2 separate regions of the Homo sapiens genome follow, and region 2 is linked to region 1. The links come from fine-mapping of genetic effects on gene expression. A gene starts in region 1. The other region holds a variant in brackets. All regions are shown on one strand. Distances are from middle to middle.

The links.
Region 2: its variant is fine-mapped to the expression of SHQ1 in whole blood (INTERVAL, PIP above 0.99).

Annotation. Positions count from the first base shown.
Region 1 is chr3:72,846,938-72,849,850 of GRCh38, reverse strand. SHQ1 (SHQ1, H/ACA ribonucleoprotein assembly factor) reads left to right here and starts at 1,406. Exons shown (of 11, transcript NM_018130.3): 1 at 1,406-1,653. The coding sequence starts at 1,511. RefSeq lists an enhancer at 1,088-1,187.
Region 2 is chr3:72,715,865-72,718,777 of GRCh38, reverse strand. It overlaps LOC105377161 (a long non-coding RNA gene), which reads left to right and starts at 2,337. Exons shown (of 11, transcript XR_940962.3): 1 at 2,337-2,378. The variant C/T (reference allele first, on the strand shown) is at 1,175.

The DNA.
Region 1 (2,913 bases):
TCAACTCTGTAATAGTGTAGAGCCTGGGCCTAGGAATCAGACTCACCTGGGTTTCAATTCCCATTGCACCACTTACTAGCTGTGAGATCCTGTGCAAGCCAAGGGAATATATAATGCCTACTTCATAGAGCGGTCAGGAGGGAGAATGAGATCATTACAAAGGGTTTGCTGCAGTGCTGGCACATAGTAAATATTCAGTTAATGTTAGCCCCTGTTACTATTAATTTTTTTTCTGAGTCCTAATGAAGTTTCAAGAATGTCTCCTTAGAATCATAAAACAGCTGGAGATTGAAAAGACTTTTGAAGTTTTCTGGTTATCTCCACTGTCCTAGGAGAGTACTTTTCATCCCTTTTCCACTGATACTTAAAACCACGGAATAAATACCACAACTGGATTATTCTAATTAGTGGTGGAATAACAGGAAACAACATGTGTGGAAAGGCCAAGGGAATATGTGGGGGAAGAGGGAAACCAGCGGGAGAGGCACTGAGAGAGTGTAAGGGGCACACTCCAAAGGGAGAAAATACAAGGAAGACAAGTAGAAAAAAAGACAGAAAAGATGTCCTCAGACAAGTGTAAGGACAAGAGTGAGAAAAAGGAAAGAAGGGGAATACAGAGGGACCTTAATTTGTGAATGCAGTCACCGACACGGTTTAAGAGTCAAACGTTCTGAGTTCTAATTACTGTAAAATGCATGGTTATAAAACGTACTGATTAACCTCTCTGAGCCGTTTTCTTTAGAGTTTGCAGCGTAGATTAGATGAGATTAGCGGGACGGACGCTCTGTTAAAGAGAAAACTCTTCAAATAAGCCGTTAAGAATGAGAGAGAAAGCTGCAGAAAAAGAGAAGTGGAAAGAGAGAGGGAGGAAAGGGAAAGTGTAAGAGGAATTGTTCACAAGGCAGGTGAGAACTAAGGGAAACCACTGTAACGGTGCTGCTGTGGCTACTGCGGTGACTACTTCAGCACATCAAGCGTTGACAACTTGCCAAGTTCGTTATTAGAGTTCTACATGCACAATTTCATGCTACCCTCACAGCATTTCTATGGGGCTAGGTTCTCGCATTATCCGCGTTTTACAGAAGATATAGAGAGGTTTTGTAACTTTCCCAAGGTCTTACAGCTGAGAAGTTGTGGCCAGGAAGGGATTCAAACGCACGTCTGTTTACCTGTCAAGCCAGTGCTGTTAAAATCATCTCTAAGAACCTCGAAAAAGGCTCGGTTGCTAGTCATCCCGCCGGTTCAACGCCGGCTCCCAGGCACCACTCGCCACGCCCTTTCTCCGCCCGGGGGTTTTGAAAGTTCCGCCTCTTCTCGAACGGCGTCCCGTCTCCATGGAGATTGGCGTGGGGAGAGACTTCCTGCCTTACGCGCGAGCACTTCCGCCTCGAGCCGGAAGCTCCGTCCCTCACACCGAGAGTTCCTGCGCGTGGGGAGTTGGAGAGTTTGCGTGGCGGGAACGCGGCGGCAGTGAGAGCGAGCGGCGCCGGCCCTTGCGTCCGGTGCGGCGATGCTGACCCCGGCGTTCGACCTCAGCCAGGATCCGGACTTCCTGACTATCGCCATCCGCGTGCCCTACGCCCGGGTCTCCGAGTTCGACGTCTACTTCGAGGGGTCTGACTTCAAGTTCTACGCCAAGCCATACTTTCTCAGGCGAGTTCGGGGTGCCTGGCCGCAGGAAAGGCGCATTCGTTAGATAGCTGCTTTAGAGGGAGAATGCAAGGTCGAGAGAGCAGTGCTCGATTGCGCGAATGCCTTTTCCCGACGTTTCCGCAGCTTCTCTTGGTGCCAGGGAACTGCCCTCTTCCAGGGGTGCGTTTTAGATGCTGCGGAAGCCCTTTTCCTTCTTGAGCTTTCTTAAATCCCATATCAAAGGATTGCGGAATCACTTGAAAAAGTGACGTTTGGACCGTGTCACTTTCCCGTTTCTGCCCTGTCGCCCTAGTTCTCGTCCCGTTCTGACTTGTTCTGTTCTTTCCTTTCACTCCGCGTTTGCTCTCCCAGTCTCTCCCTTCCTGGGAACGGCGCGCGCTGACATCTCCGTGACTTCCCAACCCGTCGGTCCTTTTAACTTTGCCCAGGCCGCCTTCTGTTGATCTATCTCTTGTCTGTCCGCTCCCTACTTACCGAAATTCTTACCTTTTTTGGACCTCTTGACACCAAATTAGCCTAGTTCTCCTGCTTCCCTGCTGTCTGCTGCTCTTCTGTTTGGTTTTGTCCCTGAAGTGTGGTTGTTTCCCCCAAGTCTCCGTGAGGGTCTGTCAGCACTTGATCTGTTTAAATTATTCTCCTTGCAGAATCGTAACCTTGGTAGCAGCTAACACTGATAACTCGTAGTGTGGTGGACAAGCAGTTCCGTTAAGTGCTTTATGATGGTGTATCTCATTTAACTTTGACGGTGATCCTTAGGGATAAGCACTGCTATTAACCCCATTCCACAGAACCCGCTGCTACATATTCATCCTAAAGTATTGCCAATCTCTTGTCCTTCTCTTTATCCATCCTCCTAATCTTTCTGAAGTGTAGCTGCATCCTACTTTTCCCACCCAAGTACTTTTGTGGTACAAACCTTCTCCACCAGTCAAGGTGGTTTTTTCACTGTTGCTGAACCAGTTTTGCTCAGATTTCCCTTAGACCATATAACGTCCGTATTTGAATTATTGCACTTTCCAGTTTTTTAATTCACTTATTTCTTTAATTTATTTATTGAGTTTCAGTGTTGGTATTATTGTGCTGAACAAGACAAAGTCCTGCCCTCATGTACTTTTCACTGGGGAGAGGAAAACAATAAACAGTGTACTTAATTGTGGTGAGTGCTATGAGGAGAAAGAAGTGCACTAATAGAGAATGAAAAAGGGCCCATGTTTTATAAAGTGGTCAGGAAAAGCCTTTCTGGGGAGGCGATATTTAAGC
Region 2 (2,913 bases), 130 kb after region 1:
AGCAACGTAAACTAGTACAATAGTTTCCTTTTATCCATGGTTTTGCTTTCGGAGATTTTAGTTACTTTCAATCGACTGCAGTCTGAAAACAGGTGACTACAGTAAAATAAGATATTTGAGATAGAAAGACCACATTCACATAACTTTTATTATAGCATATTGCTATAATCGTTTGATTTTATTATTATTTATTTTATTATTTATTTATTATTATTGTTGCTAATCTCTTACTGTGCCTAATTTATAAACTTAATCATAGGTATATATATATATAAGGGAAAGAACATAGTGTATATGCAGGGTTTAGAACTAACTGAAGTTAGGCCGGGCGCAGTGGCTCAAGTCTTTAATCCCAGCACTTTGGGAGGCCGAGGCAGATGGATCAAGAGGTCAGGAGATCGAGACCATCCTTGTTAACACGGTGAAACCCTGTCTCTACTAAAAATACAAAAAAAAAAAAAAAAAAAAAAGAACTAACTGAAGTTGGATGGGCACAGTGACGCACACCTGTAAACCCAGTACTTTGGGAGGCTGAGGCAGGTGGATACCTGAGGTCAGGAGTTTGAGACCAGCTTAGGCAACATGGTAAAACGCCATCTCTACTAAAAATACAAAAGTTAGCTGGGTGTGATGGCACACAGCTGTAATCCTATCTACGAGGCTGAGGCAGGAGAATCACTTGAACCTGGGAGGCGGAGGTTGCAGTGAGCCAAGATTGTGCCACTGCACTCCAGCCTGGGTGACAGAGTGAGACTCCGTCTCAAAAAAAAAAAAAAAAAAGAAAAGAAAAGAAAAGAAAAGAAAAGAAAAGAAAAAAGAACTATCTGAAGTTTCAGGCATGCACTGAGGGTCTTGGAACATATTCTCCTGGATAAGGGGGCACTGCTGTATTAATTGTACACACCTGTGTGTGAGGCATTGTTCTAAGGGTTTACCCATAGTCTCTTCTTTAATCTTCACAGTATAGCAACTATTATTACATTTTACAGATGAGGAAACTGAGGCCCAGGAAAGCAGAATAACTTGACCAAGGTTACATACCTAGTACTTTTAAAATCAGCTTTGGTGAGGTATAGCTTTCATATAATAAAATGCACTCATGTTCAAGCACAGTTTTGGCAAGTGGGTACACCTGTGGAATCCTCACCAAACTCAAGATATGTAGCCTTTCCAT[C/T]CTCCAACAATTCCCTCCCCTCTGCCACTTAGCAGTCTGTCCCTTCCAGTACCCAGCAAATACTAACCTGGTTTCTGTCCTTCAATGTTTGGCTTTTCTAGAATGTTATATAAAGTGGAATCACACAGCATGCACTCATTTATGTTTGGCTCTTTTACTCAGCATAATTATTTGAAATTCATCCATATTTTTCTGTGGATCAATGGTCCATTCATTTTTATTGCTGAGTAGTATTCTATTATGTGGAATATATCACAGTTTGTTTATCCAGTGCCTTTTGATGGACATTTGGGTTGTTTCCAGTTTGGGGATATTGGGAATAAATCTGCTATGAGCATTCATATGTAAGTTTTGTGGGCACATATGTTTTTATTTCTCTTGGGTAAATACCTAGAAATGAAATTGCTGGATTTTGTTTAGCTGTATGTTTAACTTCATATGATTTTATGCACCTCTTATGATTTATGGCTTAGCTATTTGTATGGCACCCAGACGGTTTCAGGAATAATTGTAAATGGTTGAACCCCAGAGAATTTTCCTGTCTCACTGGGCCATCCTTTTACAATCCCCCCTGGAAGGGCTGGTATTAGATGGCAGAAGTAGCCTTGATGGGGTGGGAGGAGCAGGGTGGGGGTCATGGATCCGCCCATGTCTTGGGCGGGCATGTCTACCCTCTGGGGCCCAATCTCCTCAAATGGGGAGAGTTTAATGCAATGGTGTGCCAGTAAATGTTTAATAAATGCTGCTTCAGAAAAGCTACATATGCTCTTGCATATATTTTTAAGAAATTTTACTGAGTAAACAATTTGAGAATAATAAAATGTGCAAAAGTCTTTCTTATAAATTCCACACAGCCAGTTGATTTTCACAAAATACTTTTATAGACTTTGCTCAACTCCCATATCAGTAGCCAACCAATAGTTGCAAATCATGAGTGAGTGCAGTTTGGATACGAATGTTGGTTGATATTTTTGCTTATGTTAAAGAGTAAGAGGCCAGGCGCAGTGGCTCATACCTGTAATCCCAGTACTTTGGGAGGCCAAGGCAGGCAGATCACCTGAGGTCAGGAGTTTGAGACCAGCCTGGGCAACGTGGTGAAACCCCATCTCTGCGGTTCCAAGATGGCCGAATAGGAACAGCTCCAGTCTATAGCTCCCAGCATGAGCAACGCAGAAGACGGGTGATTTCTGCATTTCCAACTGAGGTACTGGGTTCATCTCACTGGGTCTCATTGGACAGTGGGGGCAGGACAGTGGGTGCAGCCCACTGAGTGTGAGCCAAAGCAGGGTGAGGCATCGCCTCACCCAGGAAGTGCAAGGGGTCAGGGAATTCCCTTTCCTAGCCAAGGGAAGGGGTTACAGACGGCACCTGGAAAATCGGGTCACTCTCACCCTAATACTGCACTTTTCCAATGGTCTCAGCAAATGGCACACCAGGAGATTATATCCCGCGCCTGGCTTGGAGGGTCCCACGCCCATGGAGCCTTGCTCATTGCTAGCACAGCAGTCTGAGTTCGAACTGCAAGGCGGCAGTGAGGCTTGGGGAGGGGCGCCCACTATTGCTGAGGCTTGAGTAGGTAAACAAAGTGGCCAGGAAGCTCGAACTGGGTGGAGCCCACCGCAGCTCAAGGAGGCCTGCCTGCCTCTGTAGACTCCACCTCTGGGGGCAGGGCATAGCCGAACAAAAGACAGCAGAAACCTCTGCAGACTTAAATGTCCCTGTCTGACAGGGACTTGAAG